Regions from separate parts of the Homo sapiens genome. Here regions 1, 2 and 3 are each linked to region 4. Evidence: fine-mapped expression QTL. A gene starts in region 4. Each other region holds a variant in brackets. All regions are shown on one strand. Distances are from middle to middle.

Region 1 (8,210 bases), 34 kb before region 4:
AAAATGTTAAGGGCAGCCAGAGAGAAAGGTTGGGTTACCCACAAAGGGAAGCCCCTCAGACTAACAGCGGAACTCTTGGCAGAAACTCTATAAGCCAGAAGAGAGTAGGGGCCAATATTCAACATTCTTAAAGAAAAGAATTTTCAACCCAGAATTTCATAACCAGCCAAACTAAGCTTCATAAGTGAAGGAGAAATAAAATCCTTTACAGACAAGCCAATGCTGAGAGATTCTGTCACCACCAGGCCTGCCCTACAAGAGCTCCTGAAGGAAGCATGAAACATGGAAAGGAACTGGTACCAGCCACTGCAAAAACATGCCAAATTGTAAAGACCATCCCTGCTAGGAAGAAACTGCATCAACTAACGAGCAAAATAACCAGATAACATCATAATGACATGATCAAATTCACACATAACAATATTAACCTTAAATGTAAATGGGCTAAATGCTCCAATTAAAAGACACAGACCGGCAAATTGGATAGAGTCAAGACCCATCAGTGTGCTGTATTCAGGAGACCCATCTCACGTGCAGAGACACAGATAGGCTCAAAATAAAGGGATGGAGGAAGATCTACCAAGCAAATGGAAAACAAAAAAAAGACAGGGGTTGCAATCCTAGTCCCTGATAAAACAGACTTTAAACCAACAAAGATCAAAAGAGACAAAGAAGGTCATTACATAATGGTAAAGGGATCAATTCAACAAGAAGAGCTAACTATCATAAATATATATGCACCCAATACAGGAGCACCCAGATTCATAAAGCAAGTCCTTAGAGACCTACAAAGAGACTTAGACTCCCACACAATAATAATGGGAGATTTTAACACCCCACTGTCAACATTAGACAGATCAATGAGACAGAAAGTTAACAAGGATAGCCAGGAATTGAACTCAGCTCTGCACCAAGCGGACCTAACAGACATCTGCAGAACTCTCCACCCCAAATCAACAGAATATACATTCTTCGCAGCACCACATCACACTTATTCTAAAATTGACCACATAGTTGGAAGTAAAGCACTCTTCAGCAAATGTAAAAGAACAGAAATTATAACAAACTGTCTCTCAGACCACAGTGCAATCAAACTAGAACTCAGGATTAAGAAACTCACTCAAAACCGCTCAACTACATGGAAACTGAACAACCTGCTCCTGAATGACTACTGGGTACATAATGAAATGAAGGCAGAAATAAAGATGTTCTTTGAAACCAATGAGAACAAAGACACAACATACCAGAATCTCTGGGACACATTTAAAGCAGTGTATAGAGGGAAATTTATAGCATTTAAAGCAGTGTGTAGAGGGAAATTTATAGCACTAAATGCCCAAAACAGAAAGCAGGAAAGATCTAAAATTGACACCCTAACATCACAATTAAAAGAACTAGAGAAGCAAGAGCAAACACATTCAAAAGCTAGCAGAAGGCAAGAAATAACTAAGATCAGAGCAGAACTGAAGGAGATAGAGACACAAAAAACCCTTCAGAAAATCAATGAATCCAGGAGCTGGTTTTTTGAAAAGATCAACAAAATTGATAGACCGCTAGCAAGACTAATAAAGAAGAAAAGAGAGAAGAATCAAATAGACGCAATAAAAAATGATAAAGGGGATATCACCACCGATCCCACAGAAATACAAACTACCATCAGAGAATACTATAAACACGTCTATGCAAATAAACTAGAAAATCTAGAAGAAATGGATAAATTCCTCGACACATACACCCTCCCAAGACTAAACCAGGAAGAAGTTGAATCTCTGAATAGACCAGTAACAGGCTCTGAAATTGAGGCAATAATTAATAGCTTACCAACCAAAAAAAGTCCAGGACCAGACGGATTCACAGCCGATTTCTACCAGAGGTACAAGGAGGAGCTGGTACCATTCTTCTGAAACTATTCCAATCAATAGAAAAAGAGGGAATCCTCCCTAACTCATTTTATGAGGCCAGCATCATCCTGATACCAAAGCCTGGCAGAGACACAACAAAAAAAGAGAATTTTAGACCAATATCCCTGAAGAACATCGATGCAAAAATCCTCAATAAAATACTGGCAAACCGAATCCAGTAGCACATCGAAAAGCTTATCCACCATGATCAAGTGGGCTTCATCCCTGGGATGCAAGGCTGGTTCAACATACGCAAATCAATAAACGTAATCCAGCATATAAACAGAACCAAAGACAAAAACCACATGATTATCTCAATAGATGCAGAAAAGGCCTTTGACAAAATTCAATAGCCCTTCATGCTAAAAACTCTCAGTAAATTAGGTATTGATGGGACATATCTCAAAATAATAAGAGCTATTTATGACAAACCCACAGACAATATCATACTGAATGGGCAAAAACTGGAAGCACTCCCTTTGAAAACTGGCACAAGACAGGGATGCCCTCTCTCACCACTCCTATTCAACACAGTGTTGGAAGTTCTGGCCAGGGCAATCAGGCAGGAGAAAGAAATAAAGGGTATTCAATTAGGAAAAGAGGAAGTCAAATTGTCCCTGTTTGCAGATGACATGATTGTATATCTAGAAAACCCCACTGTCTCAGCCCAGAATCTCCTTAAGCTGATAAGCAACTTCAGCAAAGTCTCAGGATACAAAATCAATGTGCAAAAATCACAAGCATTCTTATACACCAATAATAGACAGAGAGCCAAATCATGAGTGAACTCCCATTCACAGCTGCTTCAAAGAGAATAAAATACCTAGGAATCCAACTTACAAGGGATGTGAAGGACCTCTTCAAGGAGAACTACAAACCACTGCTCAACGAAATAAAAGAGGACACAAACAAATGGAAGAACATTCCATGCTCAAGGATAGGAAGAATCAATATCGTGAACACGGCGTTACTGCCCAAGGTAATTTATAGATTCAATGCCATCCCCATCAAGCTACCAATGACTTTCTTCACAGAATTGGAAACAACTACTTTAAAGTTCCTATAGAACCAAAAAAGAGCCCACATTGCCAAGTCAATCCTAAGCCAAAAGAACAAAGGTGGAGGCATCATGCTACCTGACTTCAAACTATACTACAAGGCTACAGTAACCAAAACAGCATGGTACTGACACCAAAACAGAGATATAGACCAATGGAACAG[A/G]ACAGAGCCCTCAGAAATAATACCACACATCTACAACCATCTGATCTTTGACAAACCTGACAAAAACAAGAAATGGGGAAAGGATTCCCTATTTAATAAATGGTGCTGGGAAAACTAGCTAGCCATATGTAGAAAGCTGAAACTGGGTCCCTTCCTTACAGCTTATACAAAAATTAATTCCAGATGGATTAAAGACTTAAATGTTAGACATAAAACCACAAAAATCCTAGAATAAAACCTAGGCAATACCATTCAGGACATAGGCATGGGCAAGGACTTCATGTCTAAAACACCAAAAGCAATGGCAACAAAAGCCAAAATTGGCAAATGGGATCTAATTAAACTAAAGAGCTTTTGCACAGCAAAAGAAACTACCATCAGAGTGAACAGGCAACCTACAGAATGGGAAAAAGTTTCTGCAATCTACTCATCTGACAAAGGGCTAATATCCAGACTCTACAATGAACTCAAACAAATTTACAAGAAAAAAACAAACAACCCCATCAACAAGTGGGCAAAGGATATGAACAGACACTTCTAAAAAGAAGACATTTATGCAGCCAACAAACACATGAAAAAATATCATCACTGGCCATCAGAGAAATGCAAATCAAAACCACAATGAGATACCATCTCACACCAGTGAGAATGGTGATCATTAAAACGTCAGGAAACAACAGGTGCTGGACAGGATGTGGAGAAATAGGAACACTTTTACACTGTTGGTGGGACTGTAAACTAGTTCAACCATTGTGGAAGACAGTGTGGTGATTCCTCAAGGATCTAGAACTAAAAATACCATTTGACCCAGCCATCCCATTACTGGGTATATACCCAAAGGATTATAAATCATGCTGCTATAAAGACACATGCACACGTATGTTTATTGCAGCACTATTCACAATAGCAAAGACTTGGAACCAACCCAAATGTCCATCAATGATAGACTAGATTAAGAAAATGTGGCACATATACACCATGGAATACTATGCAGCCATAAAAAAGGGTGAGTTCCTGTCCTTTGTAGGGACATGGATGAAGATGCAAATCATCATTCTCAGCAAACTATCACAAGGACAGAAAACCAAACACTGCATGTTCTCACTCATAGATGGGAACTGAACAATGAGAACACTTGGACACAGGAAGGGGAACATCACACACCAGGGCCTGTCATGGGGTGGGGGGAGGGGGGAGGGATAGCATTAGTAGATATACCTAATGTAAATGACAAGTTAATGGGTGCAGCACACCAACATGGCACATGTATACATATGTAACAAACCTGCACGTTGTGCACATGTACCCTAGAACTTAAAAGTATAATTTAAAAAAAAAGTGTCATTTCCTTTGAGAAGCCTCCCCTCATCTCTGTAGCCTGCATAAGATACCCCTGCTGTGTTAGAATGTAATTTGTCTTACTCCTTTTAAAATTTTGTAATTACTTATTTAGTAGTCTCCCTCATTAGATTTTTTTTTTTCTTTTTCAAACGCAGTCTCGTTGCCTTGCCCAGACTGGAGTGCAGTGGAGTGGTCTTGGCTCACTGGAGCCTCCACTTCCTGGGCTTCAGCGATTCTCCTGCCTCAGCCTCCTGACTAGCTGGATTACAGGCATATGCCACCACACCTGGCTAATTTTTGTATTTTTAGTAGAGATGGGGTTTCACCATGTTGGCCAAGCCGATCTTGAAATCCTGGCCTCAAGAAATCCACCCGCCTCGGCCTCCCAAATTGCTGGGATTACAGGTGTGAGCCACCGTGCCCAACCCCTTGTTAGATTTAGTATGAAGTAATAGGATTTTGCTTTTTGTGTTACAAAAATCTAGCTAACTGGGATGCCTTACCACTTGATATATTCAGAATGTCTTTTCCCAGCATTCATAGCAAGCAACCATACATACATAGTCTCAGGGCATTTCTCAAGTCTTACTAATCAATTTAAAAAACTTGATTATTATCAACCACCAAAATGAGAGTACTGAGCCACCCAAGCTAGATGACTTTTCCGTAATCATGCTAATAACTCTATGCCACAGAATACAGTAGAAAAAGCATCGAATGCAGAGCTAGGAGGCCTTACTTTCCAATCTCACACTTCAGTAACTGCATTAACTTCTGGGACATTCTGTGGCCTCGGTAAAACAAAGATATTAAAACCTACCCTACAAGGTTGTTATTGTGAAGTTAAAGCACTTAACTTATAATAAACTTACTTAAGTTACTCGAGTTCTCTTCCTTTCTTTCGAATGGTTACTTCTCAGCTTAAAATCAAATTTCCTGGTCACAAGCCATTGCTTTTCCTTAAATACACACTTCTCCAGCCCTTAAAGTCTAACGTGTTCCTTTCCCAAAGAAACAAACAATGCTGGATGAATAGACCATCCTGCTTTTCTCTTGCTATGAAACATACTATTTGCACACTGGCACGGTGGGAATTTTAGATGCAACGTAGCCTGGCTCCCTTTCTTTTTGCTACAGCACATCTGGGTCAGGCATCTTGAATAAGTCCCTTAACAGAATATTATGTCATCTCACATGCTTTTGAATAATTCACTTGTCATAACTGAGTGGTAGTTGGCTCTAATCAACTAAGAGCAATGACCCACAAAGGTGTTCTATGCTTATAAAAAACAGATTCCACAACCCCAGTGCAAATATGCAACTAAGTGTAAGCAGCAGTGTGATGCATCCTGAAATGAGGTGTGTCAGAACAACAGCAGCGTCTAAATAATGTTTCACGTAGATTAACATGGAAGAGAGCCCTGGAAGAGAAATACAGGCATTTTTAAAAAGTGCTCCCAGGCAGCCAATCAGTGAATATGAAATGCAACAAACTGGTTTTTTTTTTTTGTTTTTTTTGAGATAGAGCCTTGCTTTGTTGCCCAGGCTGGAGTGCAGTGTCACAATCTTGGCTCATTGCAACCTCCGCCTGCTGGGTTCAAGTGATTCTCCTGCCTCAGCCTCCTGAGTAGCTGGAATTTACAGGCTCCCACCACCATGCCCAGCTAATTTTTGTATTTTTAGTAGAGACAGGGTTTCACCATGTTGGCCAGGCTGGTCTGGAACTCCTGACTTCAAGTGATCCACCTGCCTCCCAAAGTGCTGGGATTACAGGTGTGAAAAGTGTAATTTTTCTGAACTTCATTTTCAACATCTAGACAACTGAGGGTAAAGCCTACTTTTATAATGCCCTATGAGGAGTAAAACTATAAATTAAAATGTACTACCACTAGAAAGCATATTTGCAAGCAAATGTGTCACAAGGTCCTAGGCAGTGCTAGCTAAGAGGGGCCAGAAGTTGTGTCTATTAACCAATTAACAGATCATTCAAGAAGTAAAATTTCCCAAAGTAAGTGACTTTCACCTTAGGTGATTTTTCTTTCCCAAATCTGGCCCTAAACTGATCTTGATGCTTGCCCAACCCCAAAGCCCATGCCCAGCCTGAGCCTCAGCAAGTATGTAGCAGCACAAGATGTGCTGCAGGGTGAGGAGGCAGGTGCTGGGGGCAGAAAACACAAAGAACAAAGCATGCTTTCCATGTGCTCCCTAACTTGTGGATATAAATATGCATTGTCTAAATGGAATAGTTTAGAGTTTATGTGATTTCCTTTAAAGACTTGTAGCCTGGGCCAGGCACGGTGGCGCATGCCTGTAATCCCAGCACTTTGGAAAGCGGAGGCAGGCAGATCACCTGTATCCAAAGGCAGGAGCAGAGCCCTAGTTATTTTTCTGTTCCCCCTACAATGCCTTAAAGTGTACCAGCACTTAATAAATGGTTTTTGAAAAGACCACTCTCCTTGTCTGAGGACTACACAGGCCTGAGTGCCTAATGATCCTCAGTGTGCATATGCAAGAAAAGCTAAGGAGCAAAAAAGCTGTTAAGGAGTGGTTTCACCCCTTTCAGTAGTAGGGAAATTTGCTGGCGGCAATATACACCACTAGAAATGGTGCCTGCCTTTATATTGCTCATGCTAATCTGTAAAGCTGGGGTTAAACTGAAGTCACTATACTGGAAGCTGCTCCCCTTTAAGCAATCATTATCAAGAACGTATATCTGGTTAGACTGTTTAGTTTGCCAGGGCTGCCACAACAAATTGCCATGGACCGGGAAGACTAAACAGAAATGTATTGTTTCCCAGTTCTGGAGGCTGGAAGTCTGAGATCAAAGCAATGGCAGGACTGTTCAGAGGGCTGTGAGGGAAGGACCTGTTCCAGGCCTCTTTCCTTGGGCTTGGAAATGTCTTCTCCCTGTTTTCACATCATCTTCCCTCTGTATAAGGCTTTGTCCAAATTTTCTTTTTCTAAGAACACCAGTCATATTGGGTTAGGTCCTAACTTAAGGACTTCATTTTAACTTAATTCCTTCTTTAAAAACCGTATCTCCAACTACAATCACATTTTGAGATTACTGGAGGTTAGGACTTCACCATATGAATCTGGTGGTGTTGGCAGGGGGCGGTGTGTTCACCTGTAACAGACCATAATCACTTGTGTATATGGAGATATGTCATTCCTTAGTGTGTGCCTCCAAGTTTGGTGATCAGATCATCAAGTTTACATACTTGATGAGGTGCTGACAGCCTCTGGCATGTTTATGCTTCTTGAGACACAGGTAAAGGAGTGTTTACTAGAAAGCGGGGACACAGGTCAAGCGTGAAAAGGCTGACGAAGACTCTACTTCCTGTTACCTCTTTGCCCTCTGAGAATCTCAGCACAACAAAAATGCCAGGATTATGAGCCACTGACCTTTTTGAGAAGGAAATGCCAAGCATACAGTGAGCTGCAAGAATACTCTGAACTAGTTTATAGGCTTTGGCCTTGAAAACTCAAATTATTCCAGTTTTATTTATATTACTAAAATCTAGAGCTTCTTGGATATTCTATATGTCAATTTTTTTTAGTGTAGAAACCTATGTTAAAATGAAAAATGTAGACTAATGGGAAACTAAAGAATATCAGCTACTGTTTATGTTGAGCACTGTGGGAGCCACTGACACGTATGAACTTAACATCTAAACAGTATAATGAAGCGGCGCTCTTAATACTCTCCATTTACAGTTAAGGGAAGAGGCATAGAGAGCTTACATA
Region 2 (8,000 bases), 190 kb before region 4:
TGAGGTCCAAAGCACCAGGCCCCAGGCTTCCTCTGGGCCTCTGTACACATGCTGTTAGCCTCTGCCTGGAAATGATATAGTGAATGGCTAATAGGCCTGGCTCTGAGCCCAGCTGCCTGCAGTATATCCTGGCACTGCTGTTTATAACTGTGTGTCCTTAGGTAAGTTAGATAACCTCTCTGTACCTCTATTTTATTATCTAATAATAGCACTTACTTCAGGGCTCTTGTCATTATCAAATGAGCTAACATCAGAAAAATGCTCAGAGCTTGCTTCACATATAACAAACCCTCAATAGTAGCTAAGTTTGTTGAGCATTTACTATGTGCTAAGCACCTTACTGACATTCTCTCCCTTAATCTTCACAACAATGCTGAGGTGTGGCCTTACAATTCCCCTGTTTCACATATGAGGAAACTGAGGCACAGAGATGGGGAGTAGTTTGCCCAAGGTCCCACAGCTAGCAAATGATGAAGCCTGGGCACAAACATCTTCAGAGTACATACCCTTACTACCACATCAGCACCAGATGTGAAGGTGTAGTGGGTTTCCTTTGTAAGGCTGTGTGCTGCCTTTTGCTACTTTTTATGATTTTGTTTTTGGAGGCAGAAGCAGGCCCACATGGCCCCTAGGAGCCCACCCTGGCTTTTGCCTCTTGGCCCTGACCAGGCCCGTCCCTGCCCTTTTAGGCTTCTAGAGCCACCTCTCCCAGGATATGAAGCTGTACAGCCTCTGCTGCTTCCTGGATGTTTATTTTTTGTGCCCAAGCCTGCAAGGCGTGTTTCGCGGCAGCCTCACACAGAGTCTGTGGCTTCTCCACTTCTGAGGCTGCGGCTCCCCTCCCAGGGCCATTTATATCCTGGGCCCCATCATCATCCAACCCCATTTGAGATCAGGTTCCTGCCACAGAGGCCTCTGCCTTCCTTAACCAGGCTGGTCTGTGGCATAGGCAGCAGCTAGCGGAGAGAGGCACAGGCTGGCTGGCTGGTCCCCACATGGTACGTGATGGACACTGAGCTTGCTGAGCATCCTGCAGTTCAGAGCTGGCACTCTCTAGACCTGATGGTCTCAGCCTTTGGTCGGCATCAGAAAATACCTACAGAGAATAAGAGATAAGATGCAGATGCCAAGTGCAGCAGGCTAAATCACAAATAGCTCCAAAATGATCAAGTCCTAATGCGCAGAACTTGAAAATGCTACTTTATAAAGAAAAACAGTCTTTACCTATGTGATTCCATTAATGTTGACATGAGATTCTCCTAGATTATCTGAGTGGGCCCTACATCTCATCACAAGTATCCTTATAAGAGAGAAGGATGCTTGACACAAAGAAGGAGAAAGTAATGCAAGACAGAGATAAAGACTGGAGTGACTAGCCACAAGCCAAGGAATGCTAGCTACCACCAAAAGCTGAGAGGGGCAAGGAATGGACTCTCTCCTAGATCTCCATGAGAGAGGGGAGGGCCTGCAAACACCTTGATTTTGGACTTCTGGCCTCCAGAGCTGTGAGAGGCCAGAAGTCCAAAATATGGCCACCAGATTGTTGTTTCAAGCCACCAAGTTTGTGGTCTTTTGCTACAGCAGCCATAGGAAACTAACACACCAAGCAAACGGGCACAGACCCGGGAATATCCATTTTCACCAGCTCCCTAGGTGATCTGGAGACTCCCTGAAGATGGGGAACTAGATGGAGCATCCAGGCTGATGCTCCAGGAGGACCATGAATTCTTACAGTTTTGCTCACATCCTATTTAAACTGTGAGAGCCTGGAGCATGTTGAATGCCTAAATACCGATGGGAAACATACAGAGAGGAGATGGTGGTTGAAGTCATGGGACTGCAGGGAGATAAATGATTGAGCCAAGTCCCCAGGGAAGCAGAAGCAGGGAAGAGAAAAGGAATCCTTCTCTGGGATGGGAAGGGAAATGAAGCCTAGAGGATGTGTAGCTGTTTGCAGGCAGGGTCAAGGTTGTTGTTATTCATGTATTATTTTTGCTCGCTCTGCCTAGACCTGCCTGTCCTCAGTACTGCTTGCAGCCCTCAGCCCTCTAAGTCACCTTTCTTAGGATGTGCAGCTGGAAAGCCAGAGATGCTTCCTTGGTCAGTCACGTGCGTCTGGGCACTATCTGTAGAAATCACCTCCTCACCTGTGCCCTTTGCCATTTGCCCCATTTCAGACAATTTATGTAATCACTCATAAGTGGCACTGACCTTCACGCTGCAAAAGACTTGTACTTTGGTACAAAATGGCTTACTTTTCCCTAAAAGCACTGACTCTATCCATGAGGCCTCTGTTTCATGGTTCCCAAGTGGTGTATTGTGCATAATCAGGGTGTGGGGAAGTCATCCTCCATGGGATCTAGCACCTGAGCTTCCTCCCTACCTCAGCCAATTGTGCATGATGGTGAGGGAGGAAGAATCAGCAGTAGAAAGAGAAGGCTATGTCCCTGCATGCAACTAAATCCCATTGCAGATGTGTGTCAGTCAGGTTTCTCCAGAGGAACAGAACCCATAGGATGTGTGTACATGTTGGCGGAAAGAAGGGGAGATTGGACGGATGGATGGATGGATGTGTGGGTGGATGAATGAATGGATGGGTGGCTGGGTGGATGAATCGATGGATGGATGGATGGATGGATGGATGGATGGATGGATGGATGGATAGATGGAACAGATGGTGAGTGGACAGATAGACAGATAGACAGATTGATCAACACACACATATATTACTGGTTTTGTTTCTCTGGAGAGCCCTGGCTAATATGCTTTATATACACAACACAGATTTAAGGAATTGGCTTACAAGATTGTGGATACTGGCAAGTTCAAAATCTGCAGGATAGGTCAGCAGGCTGGAGACCCAGAGAAGAGTTGAGGTTGCAGCTCAAGTTCAAATGTATTCGACTGGCAGAATTCTCTCTTCTGGGAAAAATCAGTTTTTTTCTCTTGACGCCTCCAACTGTTCGGATGAGGCCCACCCATGTTATGGATGATAATCTGCTTTACTCAAAGCCTACTGATTTAAAGGTTAATCTCATCTAAAAATTCAGAGTAATGTCCAGACTACTGTTTGACTAAATATCTGGATAATGTGACCTAGCCAAGTAGATACATAAAATTAACAT[C/T]ACAAGGTGTCTTTCTCGAGTGTTTATATTCCCAGGATGATACTAAATACTGCTATGAATACAAAATAGTCTGCAGACAATGCTTGGTTCAGAACAAACTCCCCAAGACTGAAGGGCTTCACAGGGTTGTTGGAAGACTAAATGAGAATCCAGGTGGAGACAGAACCCACCTTTATGATAAAAACTGAAGCCTCCAGGCACTAGCTTTTCCCAGCCTCACTTGCAGCTTGGCAAAGGCTCATGAACCAGGCTCGGCCAATCTGATGCACCAGCTCAACTCCTTCTATTCCATTGTCTCCTGGACCTGTGACCCCTTTTCCTCCCCAACTTAAACACAATAACAAAATTCACCTTCCCTGGTTTCTGACTTGAGTCATGATTCTCTGTAGGTCATGGTTACTCAAAATATGTTCCATAGACCAGCAGCTGCATTATCACCTGGGAGCGCATTAGAAATGCAGAATCTCAGCTGGGTGCGGTGGCTCATTCCTCTAATCCCAGCTCTTTGGGAGGCCAAGGCAGGTGGATGACCTGAGGTCAGGAGTTCGAGACCAGCCTGGCCAACATAGTGAAACCCTGTCTCTACTAAAAATACAAAATTAGCTGGGTGTGGTGGCACATGCCTGTGATCTCAGCTACTTGGGAGGCTGAGGCAGGAGAATTGCTTGAACCCAGGAGGCAGAGGTTGCAGTGAACCAAGATCACTGCGCAACAGAGCGGGACTCCATCTATAAAAAAGAAAAAGAAAGGAAGAAAGAGAAAGAAAGAAATGCAGAATCTCAGGCTGTGCCCCAGACTCTCTGAATCAGGATCTGCATTTTAACAAGATCCCAGGTGATTCAAAGGCACAGAAACATTTAAGAAGCACTGACCTAGAACACTACCTTGGCTCCTCCCACTCCAGGCCATCTGCAGAAACCACCCTCGTGGGCAGTTGGACTATGCCTTGCACAGTAGGGCTGTCACTATAGTAACCAGCTGTGGCCACCTCTTACCTCTACCATCTTCCCGGCTTTGGTGCCCACAGATGCAGTGATGTTACAATGAGCATTGCTATAGAAACCAGCACCGAATATGGTCTACTATCAATTTAGCTGCTTTTCCTTCACTCTCTGTGTCTCTGGAATTATGAGCTTCCTAAACCACAAATATCGAAATTCCTTTCCAGTCTAAGAAACACTCAACAAATAACAAAGATGAAAAGTCAGGGCCACACAGTTTACAAAGGGAAGGCTATAGCATCTGCAGAGGTTTGCATCTATTTGTAAAGAAAAGGCAGGAACATCCCTCTATGTCGCTCTGTGTAGCAAGGCCTTTTCCTGCACCTGGCAGGGAGAAGATGAGTGATGCTAAAAACAATGTTGGTGATGATGATAATAACAGCCCCCATTTATTGAGCACTTTCTCGGTACCAGGCGCCACGCTAAGTACATCATCCCGTTCAATTCTTCCAATAACCCTGTTTATTTGTTCCCTGTGACTGCTGTAAAAAATTACCACACACGGACGCTTAAAACAACACAAAATTCTTCTCTTAACAGTTCTGGCAGCCAGAAGTCTAAAATCAGCCTCACTGGGCTAAAGTCAAGGTATAGGCAGGGTTGGTTCTTCCTAGAGGCTCTGGGAAAGAATCTATTTCCTTGTCTTTTCCAGCTTCTAGAGACTGCCTGCATTACCTAGCTCATGGCCCCTTCCTCTCATTACTCCAACCTCTTCTACTGCTTCTTTTCCTTTTTCCTTTGACCTTCTTGCCTTCCTTTGATAAAGACCCTTGTGATTGCATTTAGGGCCCACCTGGAGGCTCCTGAACTTAATCACACGTGCAAGGTCCATTTAGCCAGTTAAGGCAGCTTTCACAGGTTCTAGGGATTAGGATGTGGACATCTTCGGTTAGGGGTGGGAGGCATTCTTCAGCCAACCATACCCTCTGAGGTGGGTGCTATTATTATCCCTATTTTCCCAATGAGAGAACTGAGGCATGACACTTGAAATATCTTGTTCAAGCTCCCACTGCTAGAAGGTAGAGCTGGAATCCAGTTCCAATCAGTCTCTCTCCAAAGCCCGTGCTCCTAACCACAGCACTGTACAATCTTCAAATGGCTTTGACCCCATCCCCTACTGCACTAGGTTGAAGGAAACAAACCAAACACCATCAGCTTTCTAAAGAGTTTGAGCTTCCAGTTGAAGCCCCTCTACTGAAGACTGAAACCTCAAAATAGGATTTCTTGGTTTGGGGTACTGACCTAGAACACTACCTTGGCTCCTCCCACTCCAGGCCAAGTTTTCTTCAAAATGTCAAACCTCAAGTATATTAGTTTGCTGGGGCTGCCATAACAAAATGCCATGGACTAGGTGGCTTAAACAACAGAAATTGATTTTCTCCCCATTCTGGAGGCTGGAAGCCCCAGATCAAGCTGCTGGCAGGGTTGTCTTCCTCCAAGGCCGCTCTTCTTGGCGTGCATGGCCACCCTCTTGCCCCACTGTGCACACACAACCCTGGTGTCTCTCGTGTCCTGATCTCCTCTTCTTCTAAGGACATCAGTCAGACTGGATTAGGGCCACTCTAATGGCCTCATTTTAACTTCATTACCTCTTCAAAGGCTCTCTCTCCAAATACAGGCATATGCTGAGTACTGGGGGTTAGGGCTGCAACATAGGAATTTGGGGGAACACGGTTCAGCCCATAACAACAGGTAGTTTCTCTGAACCCTGGAACAAGGCAGTTTAGCATGTGAGATGAATTCCTGAGCCCATGGATGTCCTCACTCCTAGGTTCCATACCTACTCCGCACTCTTTACCACGTCTCCAACCTCACCCTCAGCAACTCTTGATATCTTTTAATCTACTACCTCTGGATATGCCTGTGGCTCAAGCATCCAACCATGACCTCTTTGTGGGAGGGTCCTATCTTCTGATCTCCCCAAAACTTTCTGTCCCTATCACTAGGACCTTCATGGTCTTCTCTCCATCTTCCCTAGTCTACACACTAGGTACTTCCTAAGGCCCCAGCAACTGGCTTTTCCAATAGAATCGAAGAATATTAGCATTGGGAAGAACTGAACAGGCTAATGGTAGCCACCTCTGACCTACCATCTGCATTTGTAAGTAAAGTTGTATTGGAACCCAGCCAAGCTCCTTCATTTGTGTATCATCTGTGGCTGTTCTCACTGCAATGTCAGAGTTGAGTAGTAGCAACAGAGACTGACCTTATGGCCCACAAAGCCTAACATACTTACTAGTTAGCCTTTTACAGAAAAGGTTTGCTGAGCCCTGAAATAGATCATCTGATGCAAACCCACCCCACTTTACAGGTGAAGACACTGAAGGCCAAAACGTTGATGGGCCAGAGGAGCCCTCCAGTGAGTTACGGGCAGATCCAGGGCTGGGATTCAGTTCTGCAAAATCCCAAACCAGGCCTTTCTCACATCCTGTAACATTCTTTCTAGTACCCAGACTCCCCAGCCAAACTCCTTTTCCATCCTGGGTGGTCAGCCTCATCACCAGCTCTCTCTTCACCATTTCAGAGAAAGGCCATGTCCGTGTATGTTCTCCATCTCCTACTTGAATCTGGGCTTAACAGCCTTCCTGAGCTGACATGCTGGCTTGACTCTGCAGGAAGCCCATCAAGGCTTTCTCTTTCCTTCCAGAGCCTCTAGTCGCACCCTATATACCTCTCCTAACACCACAGTGAAGATGTAGATGGCCACTGTCCTGTTTGAGTGGACCATCTCCCTCCTCTGCTCATCTCAGGCCACGTGGTTGGGGATTAACAAACCTGGCTTGCTGCAGAATTTCCAGGGGAGCTTATTTAAAATGCAGATGCCCAGGCCCTACCCCAAGACTTATGGGAGCCAAACTCTGGATGTAAAATCATGGCTGTTGCCATTTTAACAAGTTCTTCATGTGCTTCTGATGTTCAACAAAGTCTAAGAACCACTTCACTAAACCATGAGCTCCTCAAGCTTCTTTTGGGTTTTAGTCACTTCAAACAACTTCAGAATAAAGGAGACAACCAGTGGAACATTGTTCTCTTAAAAAAAAAAAGTATAAAGAGAATGCAAGATTTTTTCTTCAGCATTCTCCACCCTCTCCTTGACTCAGAGCCCTCGAATTCTTTCCCATCTCCAATTCCTCCAAAGAAAACATACAAATAATGCTATTTTTTCCCCTCTGAGTAGACAAGATAAGAAGATTTTTAAATGAGTTACTGGCAAAGAATTCATGAGCTTATATACTATTAAGGTCAGAGTGACAAGAAGAAGGCAATGTTGAAAGGAGAGAATAGGTACATAGAAAATTCCAGGAGAGGCTGGAATCCTGAGGTTCAAGGTGTCTTATTCTGGAGCTTGCCAGCTGTCTTGGTAAAGGTGTTATTTTTGAAGGCAGCAGAGCCTTTTTCTTTCTTCTTCTTTTTTTTTTTTTTTTTTTTTTTTTTTTTTTGCTATTCTTTGGCATTCACCAGGCATTGGCCGTGTGCCCTGGGCCTCGCTTGGCATCTAACATGAAAGGCAGCAGCCCAAGGGCAGTTCTGTGATGGAGATGCAGCCCCCCAGGGACTCAGGGTTGTGGACTGTGCTCTGGGGCCACTGAGCAAAGGAATGATGAGGGGAGGCGCCTCTGAAACTTAACCCAGAGAGTTCTCTGAGCATTTGGGGCTGGTTTCCAACAATAATGGAGACACTGTGACAAAAATAAGTTCTGCTCACCTGAGACAGTAGAATCCAATTCAATTTCAAGTCAGCGTGTGTTTATTGAGTGCCTGATTCAGTTTAGGTGATGGAGAGAATGGGAGAATGAGGGAGACAGCCTAAGAAGCAGGCTGATTCAGGCAGAAAATCCTTGGGACTCTGCCCCACAGATAGGTCCACAGGTCC
Region 3 (8,000 bases), 220 kb before region 4:
AATAGCTACAAAAAAATTGCCTAGGGATAAATTTAACCAATGAAGTGAAAGATCTCTACAATGAAAACTACAAAACACTGATGAAAGAATTGAACACAGAAAATGGAAAGACATTCCATGCTTATGGATTGGAATAATTAATATTGGAAAATTACCATCCTACCCAAGAAATCTACAGTCAGTGCAATCCTTATCAAAACACCAATGACATTCTTCAAAGAAATCGAAAAAAACACCTTAAGGTTTATATGGAAATACAAAAAACCCTAAATAGCCAAAACAATCCTAAGCAAAAAGAGGAGGCATCATACTACTTGACTTCAAAGTATACTAAGCAATAATAACCAAAACAGCATGGTATTGGTATAAAAACAGACACATAGACCAATGGAACAGAATAGAGAACCCAGAAATAAATCCATATTTCCAGCCAACTGATTTTCAACAAAGGCACCAAGAACATATATTAGGGAAAGGACACTCTTTTCAATAAGTGGTGCTGGGGAAACTGGATATCCATATCCAGAAGAATGAAACCAGATCCCTATCTCTCACCATATACAAAAATCAACTCAAAATGGATTAAAGACTTAAATGCAAGGCCTGAAATGTAAAAATCCTAGAAGAAAACATAGGGGAAATGCTTCAGGACATTGGTCTAGGCAAAGATTTTAGAGGTAAGACTTCAAAAGTACAGGCAACAAAACCAAAAATAGATAAATGAGCCTATATCAAATGAAAAAGCTTCTGTGCATCAAAGGAAACAATTAACAAATTGAAGAGACAGCCTATGGAGTGGGAGAAAATAGTTGCAAACTATTCACCTGACAAAGGACTAATGTCCGTAATAGACAAGGAACTCAACCTCAAAGAGAAAAAAAAATCTGATTTTAAAGTGTGCAAAAGATCTAAATAGACATTTCTCAAAAGAAGACATACAAGTAGCCAACAAGTATATTTTTAAGTGCTTAACATCAGTAATCATCGAGGAAATGCAAATCAAAACCACACTGAGATATCTCACCCCAGTTAGAGTGGCTGTTATCAAAAAGAAAAAATAACAAATACTGGCAAGGACGTAGAGCAAAGGGAATCCTCACACACTATTAGTGGGAATGTAAATTAGTACAGTCATTATGAAGAACAGTGTGGAGGATCCTCCAAAAACTAAAAATAGAACTGCCATATGATCCAACAATTCCACTACTGGGCATTTATCCAAAGGAAAGAAAATTAGTATATCCAAGACATGTCTGCACCCTCATGTTTATTGTAACACTATTTATAAAACCAAGATGTGGATCAACCTATGATGAATTCATCAACAGATGAATGGATAAAGAAAATGTGTATATTTATACAATGGAATACCACTCAGCCATTAAAAATGAAATCCTGTCATTTATGGCGACATGGATGAAACTGGAGAACAATATATTAAATAAAATAAGTCAGGCACAGAAAGATAAATACCACATGATCTTCTTTGTATATGGAATCTTAAAAAAAAAAATTGAGCCCATAGAAGTAGAGACTAACATTATAGACATTAGAAGCCTGGAAGAGTAGCGGGGATTAGAGGATAGGAAGAGGTTGGTTATGGATACAAACTTACAGCCAAATCAAGAACCAAGTTCTAATGTTCTATTCCACTGTAGGGTGAATATAGTTAACAATAATGTATAAGTTCAGAAAGCTAGAAGAGAGGATTTTGAATGTTCCAAGCACAAAGACATGATAAATGTTTGAGGTGATGGATATGGTAATTACCCTGATTTGATCATCATACATTATATACATGTATCAAAATATCACTGTGTACCCCATAAATATGTGCAATTCTTATGTGTCAACTGAAAAGGAAAAAAAAAGAAATAGAATTGCTTCTCAGGTCTTCCTGATGGCAGCCTTCCCCCTTGGCTTTTCCTCCACCCTCCCTTGCTCACTCCAGGCTGTCTGCAGCACAGCCTTCCTCCCAGAGGACAGTGAGTGTCAACATGGCTCAGTTACTGGGCAGCCCACACCCTTCAAACTACTTCTCTTTGGGGACAGTGGAGGCCAAGTCTACCTCAGATCTGGCCAACCTCAGAGCTTCTCAGACTCTGCCCTCCAAATGCAGATTCACAGGAATTCCAGCCTCTGCAAGTTCGTCCCGCAGTTTTTCAGAGTCCCCAGGTGGCATCTGATGTGTAGCCACCACTTCCTGCCAGGCTGTGGCCCAGCTTAGGGCTGCCCACAGCCTGCGGCCTTGGCCTCCTGTGAGCCTGCATGAGCCTATGGCTGGGGCTGCCTTGGAAGACTCTGACCTCCCAGCCAAGGGCACGACTGGGAAGTCTCCAGGCCTTTCCAAAGCTACTGCCATCAACCCTGCCTCCATGGTCTATGCAGCTCTTCCCCACTCTATGCCCACCGAGAATGCCACTACCAACAGATGCCAGTGGAAGGGGTGCTGACCTGTTCTGCCAAAACCCTAGGGATGCAGAAGCAGCTTGGGATCTCCGGAGGCTGTGCTGCCCCCAGGGCATGAAGACCCCTGCCTTCACAGGGCAGCGTGGTGTGGGGGAGAGCCAGATGGCAGCAGCTTCCAGGCCAGTTATTGGACTCAGTGGCAGTGTAATTTCAGTCTTATTAGTTCTCTGTGCCTCACTTTCCTCATTTGTGAGATGCATATGCTAGCAGGACCAGCCCCATTGGGTCATGTGGCACTTAAATGGGTGTAACAGGTCTAAAGTGCTAAGAATTATCCTGCACACAGGAAGCACTAGCTGTTGGTTTGCTGTCATCCACCTTAGCCTCCTCTGGTGATCCCAGAGCTCAGCTGTCTGGGCTCCTCCAACTTTTCATAGCTTTCAGGGAGCAGCTCTTTGAGCTCTGCCAGGGGCCAGGCAGGAAGTCTGATCAGAGAGACCAGGATTCTGTTGATTTCAGCACCAGCTTCCTTCCAGGCCTCCGTTGTTGTTGAGTTGCTTCTTCTACCCCTCCAGGCTCTTCCTGCTTGGTGATTTATTTCTTACAGCCTCCTTGGTCATTTATGCAGGTTGACCATCAGCCACCCCGCTGTCCTCCAGACAGACACCAATGGGGTAGACTCTGAGAACCCCAGGCTGGAAGCTCTGCTCCATCAGCAGAGGCCAACCAAATTCCTGAGCCCCCACCCCACAAAGTGGGCCCCACTCTGGAGTCTGTGACGGCACAGACTTTGGGAGATGTTTGGGATTTGAGCCTCAGACTCTTCGTCAGACTTTTTAAGGGCCACACTCAAAACTGGGTTCTAGATTTGTGCCTTTTTGGAGGCACTGTGTCATAGTGACAAAGAACACAAGCCCACATTGTGTGTCCAACTCCAGGTTGGAGTCACAGCCTGCCACTTGCTGAGTGACACCTGGGCCAGTTGCCTCCTCCCTCAATTTTCCCATCTCTGAAATTGATATAATAATGCTCACCTTGTGTGGCTCTTATATAAATCAAATAGAAAACGTGTCTAAATGCCCGGAGACATGGTAGGTGCTCAGCATATTGGGGCTTCTACCTCTGCTGTCTCTTCTTCCTCTACTCCAGGTCACTGTCCTCACTGGAAAATTAAAAACATTGTCTCAGTGCCCGATCCCACCCCAGGCCTCTATCTTTGAGTTTTCTTCTAGGTCCCTTCCCAACTTTCACTGATTGGGAGCTCTTATTCTGACCAGTGGTTGGAGCTTCCCCTTACTAGGCTAAAGTGATGTGAATGCCCGGAGGCAGGCACCCAGCTTAGCTTCCTTTTTTTTTCTTCCTCCCAGGGAGTGCAATCTCTAAAACATGAGAATGGAGAGAAAAAGGAAGCAGTAGCAGCTAAGGATCTCAGTGCACCCCAAAGGGACCCCAGGAATGAGCAGCTTTGCAGTGTAGAGTCCTAAAAAAGTCAACCCCAGCATGAAGCAGCAAATCAGGTGCTCAGCGTTCAGAATGCTGGCAGGACTACCCCTCTCTGTCCCATGTACCCAGCATCCTGGTCTCACCACTCAGAAAGGAGGAAGAGCAGGCAGCCCATGAGCCCAGGAGAACTGCTTATTCAATGCCAAGTATGCCAGGCATTTACACATTTT[G/A]CACTTAACCCTCATAACCACCTGAGAGGTGAAGATTATTCCTCACCTGAGAGGTTAAGTGACTCGCCTGTGTTTACACAGGCTGGAGCTGAGATTTGAACTCTTTCCTCTGATCCCTGCTTAACTTTCAGCAGTAGTTCCCCACGTTTTCCATCTGCAGCTGCCCTTATGTCTTCCCTGTGATCTGCCTCTAAAAGAGAATGTCCTTCCTTGATGCTTTTAAAAATTTCTTGGATGAATTTTCCAGCTGTGGGAAATGGAGAGTGGAGAGGCAGGCTCAGGGCTGGGTATGTGAAGATGCAGAGAGATGTAGGGATATAACCCCCTGCGTTAGTCTATTTGTGCTGCTCTAACAAAACTCCTGAGACTGGAGGATTTATAAAGAACAGAAATGTATTTTCTTATAGTTCTGGAGGCTGGGAAGTTCAAGATCAAGATGCCAGCCAGGTCAAGGTCAGGTGGTCTGGTTCTCTCTGCCTCCAAGATGGTGGCTTGTTGCCATATCCTCATATGGCAGGAGGTGGAAGGGCAAGAGAAGAAGAGTGTTCCAGCTCCAGAAGAGAGAGAAAGAGAAAATTTACCTTTCCTGTGCCTTTTTGTTCTATCCAGGCCTCGGCCACTTGGATGGTGCCTGCCCACACTGGGTGAGGACAGGTCTTCCTCACTCAGCCCACTGATTCAAATGCCAGTCTCTTCTGAAAATACTCTCACAGACACACCCAGAAATAATGCATTACCGGCTATCTAGGTGTCCTTTAATCCAGTCAAGTCGACTCCTAAAATTAACCATCATACCCCTTGCTGCCATCTGCACAAGGCCCTGATCTGTTGGCCAGGCACTGAGCTCAGTGGATCGTAGTCTAGTTAGGCTGTCCTGACGAAGCCTTAGGACTTAGATAACATAGAGCTTTCCTTTATTTCGACAACTCCTATTAGAAATAGGGGCTGCTTGTGGCTGGGTGCTGTGGCTCACTCATATAATCCCAGTACTTTGGGAGGCTGAGGCAGGAGGATCACTTGAGGCCAGAAGTTCGAGACCAGGCTGGGTATGAAAGCAAGACTCCATCTCCACTACAAAAAATTAAAAAAATAAAAATTAATAAATAGCCGGGCATGGTGGCTTGTGACTGTAGTTCCAGCTACTTGGGAGGCTTAAGTGGGAGGATCGCTTGAGCCCAGGCTGCAGTGAGCTATGATCACCCTGCTGCACTCCAGCCTGGGTGAGAGAGTGTCTCTTAAAAAAGAAAAAGAAATAGTAGCTGCTTGGAATCTTGTCTTGAGAAGGACTTTAGGGCTGCATCTATAATCAATCAATCAATCAAGAGCTCTGTGAACCTCATTCCCATAATCAACCCCCCTAAAGCTGGTGAACAGTCCTCTTGTCAGTCATCTTTTGAAGTAGTGGCCCCTCCCTCAGACAGGAAACAGGAAGCCAGGAGATGAGTCCTAAGCCTTCGGAGGAGAAACTCCTGCCTCTCACTTTGCCTCACTTACTCGAATTTGGATGTTAGGTAAATGTGTCACGTTGAAAGGTACAGCAGGATGGTGGAGAAGGGGTGAGATCTAAAGGACTGGTTTCAGCTGGACAATGAGAGGGAATGGGGGAGCCCCAACAGGGGCTAGCATCATGTCAGATATCGTATTAGTCAGCATTCTCCAGAAAAACAGAACCAACAGGATTTCTCTCTCTCTCTCTTTCTCTGTAGCGAGATAGACTGAGAAAGTCATTTATTTTAAGGAATTGGCTCATGTGATTGTGGGAGCTGGCAAGTCCAAAATTTTGCAGTGCAGGCCAGCAGGCTGGAGATTCTAGTAAAAGTTGTTGCAGTCTGGAGACGGAATGCTTTCCTCTTCGGAGAACTTCAGTCTTTTCTCTTAAAGCCTTCAATTAATTGATGAGGCTCACCCACACTGTGGGAGGTAATCTGCTTTTCTCAAAGTCTATTGATTTAAATGTTAATCACATCTAAAAAATACCTTCATAAGGGAACAATAGACACTAGGGCCTACCTGAGGGTAGGGGATGAGGGGGCATGAAGACTGAAAAACTACCTGTTGGGTACTATGCTGTTTACCTGGTGACAAAATAATCTGTACACCACACTCCTGCGACATGCAATTTACTCATGTTACAAACCTGTATGTGTACCCCCGAACCTAAAATAAAAGTTGGAAAGAAAAAAAAAAAACCTTCTTTATAGCAACATCTAGACTAGTGTTTGATCAAACAACTGGGCACCATAGCCTGGCCAAGTTGACACATAAAATTAACCATCACTGGCCAGGCGCGGTGGGTCACACCTGTAATCCCAGTACTTTGGGAGGCCAAGGCGGGCGGATCACCTGCGGTCTGGAGTTCGAGGCCAGCCTGGCCAACATGGTGAAACCCCATCTCTACTAAAAATACAAAAAAATTAGCTGGGAGTGGTGGTGCATGCCTGTAATCCCAGCTACTCAGGAGGCTGAGGCAGGAGAATTGCTTGAACCCGGGAGGCAGGGGTTGCAGTGAGCCGAGATCGCACCACTGCACTCCAGTCTAGGCAACAGAGCGAAACTCTGTCTCAAAAAAAAAAAAAATTAACCATCACAGATATCTTAGGCGGCTGTCTCCCAAAGTACGCAACATATTCTGGTGTGCATGAGATGATCGTAAGTAGGACAGGGCAAGTGCATTAAATAATATTGATTATAGAGTGATTCTTTTACATTCATTTGAATCTTAATTACTTTAAAAAGAAAGGCTCCATTTGATATCAGCCCCTAACACTTCTGTAACACCTGTTACGTATAAAAAGGAAAACGGGGCCAGAATTCAGCTAGAAATTAATTACATTTGATCCTTGAACAATCTGGGACTTAGGGGCACTGAACCCCTATGCAGTCAAAAATCTCTGTGTAACTTTTGACTCCCCAAAAGCTTACTACTAATATCCCACTGTTGACCAGAAGCCTTACTGGTAACATAAACAGTCCATTAACGTGTATTTTATGTTATATTCTTATATATGATATTCTTACCATAAGTAAGCTTGAGAAAAGAAAAAATTATTAAGGAAACCATAAGGAAGAGAAAATGTACTTACTATTCATTAAGTGGAAGCAGATCATCATAAAGGTCATCATCCTTGTCATCTTCATGTTGAGTAGGCCCAGGAGGAGAAGGAAAAGGAGGAGTTGGTCTTGTTGTATGATGGGTGGCAGAGGTGGAAGAAAATCCATGTATAAGTGGATCCAAGTAGTTCCAGCCTGCATTGTTCAAGGGTGAACTGTACACTGTTTTGTTGTCATCAAATTTACTTTTATAGGGCAGAGCGTGGTGGCTTATGCCTGTAATCCCAGCACTTTGGGAGGCAGAGGCAGGCAGATCACCTGAGGTTAGGAGTCCAAGAGCAGCCTGGCCAACATGGTGAAAACTCATCTCTACTAAAATTACGAAAATTAACCGGTTGTGGTGGCAGGCACCTGTAGTCCCAGCTACTCAAGAGGCTGAGGAGGCAGGAGAATCGATTGAACCCGGAAGGCAGAAGTTGCAGTGAGTGGAGATCATGCCACTGCACTCCAGCCTGGGCAACAGAGCAAGACTCCATCTCAAAAAAAAAAAAAAAAAAAAGGAAAAAAAACACGAAAAGTACAGTGTGATAACCCAAGTAAGGGCAGGGTGGTTCTAGAGGGGGTTTCCTAGAGGAATTAATTTATAAGCAGATACCTGGATGATCAGTAGGAGTTAGCCTGGAGAAGAAGAGGGAGAGAATGTTCTGGACAGAGGGAATAGCATATGTACAAGGCTCAGGGGCAATAGAGAGCATAGCCCATTCTTGTGACTACAGTTAAAGCAGTGTTGGCCACAACATAGAGGGTGTGTCACAGGGCGAGGGAGGCAGTATGCAGGAACGGGACGCAAAGGGCTTCCTGAGCCTT
Region 4 (8,210 bases):
ATTACAAATGTCTTTCGAATAAGAGTAATACTGATTTGAATAAAACAGCACTGAAGGTTGTTATCAAAAAGTATTAGTTCTTATATCATAATTTAGAGACTGCCATACTATAAACATTACAGAACCACTAGGCTAGCCAACAGGTTACCCAAAAGGGGCTCTCTAATGACCTCCAGTCCTTACACTGGGCTTTATTCTCTGCGTATGGGAGGGGGTGAAGCAGAGAAGAGGAATCAAATGAGGTTACATATTCCTTAGCAGTGAAATCAAATCTAAATAGGTTTTTAATTCTGAAAAATGGCAATGCCATTTTATCAATCAACCTGAAAATAATAATAGCTAAAATTTATGGCTCCCTTACCATGTGCTATGTATTGGGCTAAGTGATTTATATGTAACTATCTCTCTTAATCTTCTTTTTTTTTTTTTTTTTTTTTTTGTTTTTGAGACAGGGTCTTGCTCAGTAGCTGCAAGCTGGAGTGCAGTGGCGTGATCACAGCTGACTGCTGCCTCTACCTCCTAGGCTCATGAGATCTTCCCACCTCAGCCCCCAAGCAGCTGGGACCACAGGCAAGTGCCACCATGCCTGGCTAATTTGTTTTTATTTTGCAGAGATGGGGTCTCCCTATGTTGCCCAGGCTGGAGGTAGGTATTATTCTTAATCCCACTTTAAAGATGAGGAAACTTAAGATTCAATGATGCTAGGAAACTTAACCCAGAATCACATAACCAGTAAGGAGAGCTGGGATTTAAATTCAGAACTAATTTAAGAAACCAAAGCTCTTAACTATAGTAAGAAAAAGACAATTACAATAAAAGAACTATATTGCCTTTTACACAGTTGCAATACATTAGGGCCTATCTACTTATATTGTGGCGTATATTTAAAGTTCCACATAGACCTGTTTCTTGCATTATTAGGTTTCACCCTTATCCCTGGCCATGGATCCCATAAAACTAAGCTCTAAGACATCAATAAAATGTAAAAGGCCAACCTAGTACCTTGTATAGAACAGACATTCTGAATTTTCTTATTTTATCGGATGGAGCTATGCAAACTCATCACCCTTACCAGAAAGACAGCTAGAAGCACCTGGCAAATGAGGTACACCTTATGAAGAACAGCATGCTAATAACAGTTTTTATTATGCTATAAAATAAAGCAGCCCAGGTGTGGTGATTTACACCTGTAATCCCACACTTTGGGAGGCCAAGGCAGAAGGATCGCTTGAGCCCAGGACTTGGAGACGTCCCTAGGCAACACAGTGAGACCCCTGTCTCTACTAAACATTTTTTTTAACTTAGCCAGGCATGGTGGTTCGTGCTTGTGGTTCCAACTACAGGGGAGGCTGAAGTGGGGAGGTCGGGGCTACAGTGAGCTCTGCCTGTACCTCTACACGCCAGCTGGGGTGACAGAGTGAGACTGTGTCTTAAAAACAAAAAAAGCAAAAAATCCCTGTAGCCTAAAGAAAACATATCTACCTTAATTTTGAAAGTTGCTGGGCTTGAGTTGGTTTAAAACAGACTTTTCCCTAACTCTTTATAGCTACAACCATAATTAAAACACTACAATCACTACAGCTGTAACAGCCTACTTAACAAATTGGTTACAATATTTTTTTAAAAGTACAACTACAAGTCTGCACCTTCAACTCTCATTCTGAAAATTCCTGAATATTTATTTAATTTCAAGATAAAAATCAGCATGGTGTTTCTAGGTTGACTCCTAGGCCTTCTCAAACCAGTTCAAACCAGAGTTTAATGCGAGAGGCTCAGCAGATTTCTGCTTTGTTGTGAGTCACTAAAACGTGATGACCTCAGCAGCCATAAACCAAAGGTAATGAGTATCCCACAGAGAGAAGGCAGATGAAGGGAATGTACAATATGATCCTCATAAGACTTTCTCATTCTAAAATGCAGTTCTATTCTCATTTTCTTTCTCCTATGAGATTCTAAGAAGCAATCCCGGAAGAAGGCAAGAATCAAGATACTAAGCTCTATCTTCCCTACTCATTTAGGGTAAAATAATTTCCTACACAGTTCTACAGTTTATGTGTGTGTTTCTAACTGACCTATGCAACCATCTGCCAGTTGCTGATTTTACACCTTTTTCTTCGCATAAAATATAATAAACTAACTGAAATGCAGCCACTTTGAAAAATGCAGTGGGGCTTCAATAATTTCAATGAATTTGTGCCTTATCTTCCTTATTCTAAACATACGGCCTTTGAAAGGGCCTTGAAAAAACAGCCAAATGCAACAATTTCTGTGGCCTGCTTCTGTACTTAAACATCAGCATGAAGCTTGCAGAATTAAGAACTTAATTCCCTCACTATCGTCCCTGCCATACCAGCAAAACTCAAGGTGAAGCATAATAAGATAACAATACACGTTGGAATCCGGAAAAATATATTAAACGCTCAAATAACTGAAAGACACAGGAAAAGGTGTCAACAAGCCAACAATAAACGTGTGGCTACTGGGAACAACTTTCCACATGTGGAGTAAATTAGGATGCATGAGATTACATTCCACCCAACACTAGTTTCTGGATTTGTTTCCTTTGCAAATCACACCTGTAACCTTCTCAATGGCACCAAAAACAACGGCACTGACCCTGGACACTCACTCGCCAGAGTTTCCAACGATGTCACCAGTGCTGAAGCCCACCTCCCTACTCACCTGTGATGCATCGGCTTGGGGCCAAATATCAGAGAAAGGAGCGCTCGGGTGGTGGGGAACAGGCATCAGGGTTTGCGTTCCAGGGTCACGTGCTACCACATCTTGCTCACAACCGCTGCACCGACGCGGCCACTCGTCCCCGGGGTCGCCCGGGGCCGCCCAACTTCTCCCGAGGGCCGGTGGCCGTGCACCCCGCCACGGGTTGGGGCATCTCGGGGAACACCTGGGGCCTTCCGTCCAGAAGCTTCGGGAAGGGGGCTGCCCAACCTGGGGGAGTGGGGACAAGAGCGGTCACCAAAACCACAACAAGGTCGCAGCCCCCATCCCAGCTACCCGAAAGCCCCAGGCGCTGCCGACACCGCCACCCAAGGGCTGTGGATTAGCCCGCCCGCGGCCCGCAGGCCGGGCCGCCGCGCCCCGCCCCGCTCCGGCCGGGCCCGCGCGCAGCCCACCTGCCAGCTGCGCTGGGGGCGCACGCGCCTGCCCCACTGCTTTGTTCCTCATCCGGGCAGAGTTCGCCTCGGGGCCCTGCCCGTCCGCTCGGCCCCCTCACCCCGGGGGCCGCTGCCCTAACGTTTCCCGTCCCGCCCGGCCCTTCCCGGCCCGCGGCCTCCTCTGGGCCGCACCCTCTGCGGCGCGTTTCCGGATCCTCAGCCACTCTCAGCGCCCGCCGCTCCGCCCCTCGTGCGTGCGCCCTCCCCGCCGCGGCCCGCAAGCGGCGCCCGCGCACCGCGTCGCCCTTCTCCCAGCCCAGGCCCCTCCGCGCGTGCGCACGGCAGAGGCACTGGCCGCGAGAGGCTCGGCCGGGAGTTCCGCGTCTCCATCCGGCCGGGTAGAATCGAGCGCCGAGCGATCGGCCCATGGTTGCTAGGCGACCAGGGCTGCTGTTCCTGCAGGGATTGAGTTTTGAATCCCCTAAATCCCGCAGACTCAGGATTTCGTCTTCATGACATTCCCCTACTAGAGAAGCATGGGTCCACACAAAGCCCCCAAAATTCGAAGTATGGGATTTGGCCCCGAGGGTTGCCTCTGCTGCCCAGGAGGAATTGGGATTCTATCCTGAATATTTTCGGCCGTCTGCTACACCTGAAGGCTGCCCAGTTTCCCTGCTTCCCGTCGTAAATGCTGGGGTTTGGGATTTTAAACAAAATTTCCTTCCCCTTTTCTCTGCCCTCAGTTCTCTACTGCGCGCCAGGCACTGTGCCTAACGCTAGGAGTACCGAGATGGCTTTAAAGGAAGGTGGTCCCAAGCTCCTGAGCAGTAGACGTTGAAATTACACCACACTGCCTGGTGGCTCCCTTACACCAGCAGAACAGCAGACCCAGGAATTCTTCCTGTCATTCACAAAGCGTCTGTTGAATTACATCTCAAACCTAGGGATACAGAGCAAGGCACAAGCCCTGACCTTCACCTGCCTGCAGTCTAGTGGGAACTGATGAATTTTGAAAATTCAGTCTAATGTGAAAGGGTAGAGGCACATGCAACCTTTTGGACGAGAGCTGGGAGGGGTGTCAACCCCCATAATGTTTCCCTTCGTTTACTTCTCATGGGGGGAAAGCACATTCCAGATGAGGAAACTTCACTGAACATTGGCAGGCAGGTCACATTGGTTTTGCTCTCTGTTGACAACAAATAGAAATCTAAATCAAGAAGGTCATCATCTCAACTGAGAGACAGTATTCCCTGAAATGCCACTTCAAATCTGGAGCCTAGAGAATGATGATGTATCTTATTACCGGCCGAATGCTTTCACTAGGTTTGGGTTTGGATGTCTGTTCTTTTGGAACAATTTTATTAAGTTGAGAGGTGAACATAAAAATCAGGTCACATAAATGTAAGAGCTAAAACCATAATACTTACAGAGGAAAATAAAGGCAAAAATCTTTGTGACCTTGATAGGACAAAAAAATCACAAACTATTAAAAAATTGGAGCAAGTGCAGTGGCTCTCTCCTCAGCACTTTGGGAAGCTGAGGTAGGAGGATCGCTTGAGCCCAGGAGTTTGAGACCATCCTGGGCAACAAAGTGAGACCCTGTCTCTACAAAAAATAAAAAAAATTAGCTGGGCATGGTGGTATGCACGTGTAGCCCCAGCTACTTGGGAGGCTGAGACAGGAGGATAGCTTGTGCCCAGGAGTATGAGGTTGCAATGAGCTAAGATTGTGCCACTGCACTCCAGCTCAGGTGACAGAGAGAGACCCTATCTCAAAAAAAAAAATGACAAATCGAACTTCATCAAAATTAAAATGGTTGATCTTGAAAAGATACTGTCAACAAAATGAGTCAAGTGAGAGACTGGGAGAAAATATTTTCAAAACAAATATCTGACAAAGGATTTGTATCTTGACTATATAAAGAACCCTTTAAACACAATAATAAGAAGACAATTAAATTTAAAAACTTAGGCAAAAATTTCAACAGCCATTTCACCAAAGAAGCTATATGGATGGCGATTAAGCACACAAAAAGATGTGCAGCATCATTAGGTATCAAAGAAATGCAAATCAAAGCACAATGAAGTGATATTACACACTTACTAGAATGGCTTCAATTAAAAAGACCAACTATAACAAGTGTTGGCACAGATATGGAGCAACTGGCACCCTCACATTTTGTTGGTGGGAATGCAAAAAAAATGCCACAGCCATTTTAGAATTTCTTTCTTTTTTCTTTCTCTCTTTTTTTTTTTAGACAGAGTTTCACTGTCACCCAGGCTGGAGTGCTGTGCTGTGGTCTCAGCTCACTGCAGCCTCTGCCTGCTGGGTTCAAGTGATTCTCCTGCCTCAGCTTCCCCAGTAGCTGGGATTACAGGTGCTCACCAGCATGCCTGGCGAACTTTTGTATTTTTAGTAGAGATGGGGTTTCACCATGTTGGCCAAGCCGGTTGCGAACTCCTGACCTCAAGTGATCCACCTGCCTTAGCCTCCCAAAGTGCTGGGATTACAGGCATGAGCAACCATGCCTGGCCAGCAATTTCTTATACCTCTTATACCATCCAATTCTCCACACTCCTTAGGTATTTACCAAAGAAAAATAAAAACATATGTACAAAGACTTGTACGCCAATGTCCATAGCTGCGTTATCTGTCATAGGCCAGAACAGGAAATGACCCAAATGTCCATCAACTGGTAAATGAATAATGATAGTGTACAGTATCTATACAGTGGAATACTCAGAAATAAAAAGGAACAAGCTGTTGATACATGGATGGATCTCAAAGACGTATTATGCTAAGTGAAAGGAACCAGACACAATAGACTACATATTATGAGTCCAGGTATGAGAAATTCTAGAAAAGGCAAAACTGTAGTAATAGAAAGCAGAGAAGTGATTGTCAGAAGTTGGGAATGGGTTGGGGGATGAGATTGCCTACAGTGGGGGCATAAGAGAACTTTTAGGAGTGATGAAAATGGTCTTGATTGTGGTAGAGGTTACACAATTGTATACATCTGTCCAAATTAATCAAATAGTAAACTTGACATTGGTGAATTTTATTGTATGTAAAAATACCTCAAAAATTCAATTAAAAAATTATGTCAAGATTAACAAAAATTGAAGTGTTCTGACTCTACTCCCCAGACTAGGCCCACTGTATGCTCTCTCATAGTACCTATCTTTATTGTAATTAATTGTTTAATTTTCTATTTTGCCAAATACATTTTAAATTTTGGGGAGAAGATTCATGTCTATCTTATTTAATGCTATACAACATAGCACTATACCTGGCATATATTAGATATTCAATGAATTTCTGATGCCTGAGGGAAAGTCAAACTGGCATAATTTGAAGCCACACATATTGACTCATATATCTATTTACTTGGAGATGTACAGCAAATGTTTGCTCAAAGATTGCCTTAACTGCTGATTTAGGGTGACTTACCCCTTTAAGGAGACTCCATGGTGCTGTTAAGACAATAAAGACAATGGAAAGGCCAGACACAGTGGCTCACACCGGTAATCCTAGCACTTTGGGAAGCCAAGTCTGGTGGATTTCTTGAGTCCAGGAGTTCAAGATCAGCCTGAGCAACATGATGAAACCTTGTCTTTACAAAAATCAGCCCGGTATGATGGTACATGCCTGTGGTCCCAGCTACTTGGGAGGCTGAGGTAGAAGGATACTTTGAGCCTGGGAGGTTGATACTGCAGTGAGCTGTGATCAGGCCACAGCCACTGCACTCTGGCCTGGGCGACAGGGCAAGACACTTCCTCAAACAACAACAACAACAAAAATGGGAGAAACTGGCCAATCACACAGGTAGAAATGAAGAGCGTCGGTGTGGCAGAACAATGAGGATATGTTCTGAGGAATGCAACCTTAGGTGATTCTGTGGTTGTGCAAACATCATAGAGTGCCCTTACATATACCTAGATGGTCTAACCTACTACACCCCTAGGCTAGATGGTATGGCCTATAGCTCCTAGGCTACAAACCTGCACAGCATGTTACTGTACTGAATACTCCAGACAACTGTAACATCGTGGTATTTGTGTATCTAAACATATCTAAACATAGAAAAAGTACAGTAAAAATACAGATAAAAGATTAAAAAATGGTATGCCTGTATAGGGCAGCTTCATTATAATCTTATGGGACCACTCTTGTATATCCAGTCTGTCGTTGACCAAAACATCATTGTATGGCACAGGACTGTATTAGTATGACTGTGAAATAATGATGGAGAGTATAGTCAAGGGTAGAGCTTAGAGGTAATATCAGTGAAGACAACCAGATAACAACCACTAAGATTTTTCCTGGACATCAGGGATAGACACAGAGAGCAAATTACCTTTAAACATTATTTCCTAGCACTAAAGACGAGAACAGTAATGGGTAAACTTGGCCCCAGATTTAGCTGATCAGGGTATCTTACTTTTAACTGACCCTAATTAAGTTTTCAAATCTTGCTTCCTATTCCTTATGGTAAGGAGGATCTGGAAATAAAGACCTTTTATGTGGGTAAACCTGCTCTTTGGCATTCTTGGGATTCCTGCCCATAAGTTTGATACAATTATAATGTATAATGTAAGGACTGACCTCCTTTATTTAATATTTGCAGAGAGGCATAGAGTTTATTCTACAAATGTTTGTTGAGTGTCTACTCTGTGCCAGGCATTGCTCTAGGAACTGGGAGTATATAGTAAACAAAACAGGCAAAAAATACCAGTTCCTCTGGAGCTTACATTATAATGGAAGAAGATAGATAATAAAGAAATAAATAATTAAAATACACAATATTCCAGATAGCAATAAATAACATTAAAAAAAAGAATGGCTGGAAAAATGGACAGAAAATGCCTGGGGATGGGCCTGCAATTTTAATAGGGTAGACAGAGAAGTCATCACTCAAAAGGTGACATTTGAACCAAAGGAGAGGAGACAGTGATCCATGCAAACATCTAGAGGAAGAATATCTCAATCAGAAAGAAGGTCAAGAGCAAAGGCCCTGAGGCAGGACACTGCCTGGCAGATTTGAGAAATTGCAAGGACACCAGTGACTCTAGAACTGTATTGCCTAGTGTGGTA

What was found.
Region 1: its variant is fine-mapped to the expression of PRDM4 in whole blood (INTERVAL, PIP 0.93).
Region 2: its variant is fine-mapped to the expression of PRDM4 in left ventricle (GTEx, PIP above 0.99). The same link has a PIP of 0.9 or more in stomach and visceral fat.
Region 3: its variant is fine-mapped to the expression of PRDM4 in whole blood (TOPMed, PIP above 0.99).

What each region holds. Positions count from the first base shown.
Region 1 is chr12:107,723,805-107,732,014 of GRCh38, forward strand. No RefSeq gene overlaps it. Among named protein-coding and RNA genes, the nearest start is that of PRDM4-AS1, 8.6 kb to the right of the region's middle. The variant A/G (reference allele first, on the strand shown) is at 3,123.
Region 2 is chr12:107,570,849-107,578,848 of GRCh38, forward strand. All of the region lies in intron 3 of ABTB3 (ankyrin repeat and BTB domain containing 3), which reads left to right. Among named protein-coding and RNA genes, the nearest start is that of PWP1, 110 kb to the right of the region's middle. The variant C/T (reference allele first, on the strand shown) is at 3,126.
Region 3 is chr12:107,535,667-107,543,666 of GRCh38, forward strand. All of the region lies in intron 2 of ABTB3 (ankyrin repeat and BTB domain containing 3), which reads left to right. Among named protein-coding and RNA genes, the nearest start is that of PWP1, 150 kb to the right of the region's middle. RefSeq lists an enhancer at 2,274-2,838. The variant G/A (reference allele first, on the strand shown) is at 4,083.
Region 4 is chr12:107,757,823-107,766,032 of GRCh38, forward strand. It overlaps PRDM4 (PR/SET domain 4), which reads right to left and starts at 3,315. Exons shown (of 12, transcript NM_012406.4): 1 at 3,135-3,315; 2 at 2,683-2,949. The coding sequence starts at 2,693. It overlaps PRDM4-AS1 (PRDM4 antisense RNA 1), which reads left to right. Exons shown (of 5, transcript NR_120474.1): 4 at 453-570; 5 at 1,950-2,146. RefSeq lists silencers at 2,866-2,975, 3,026-3,605.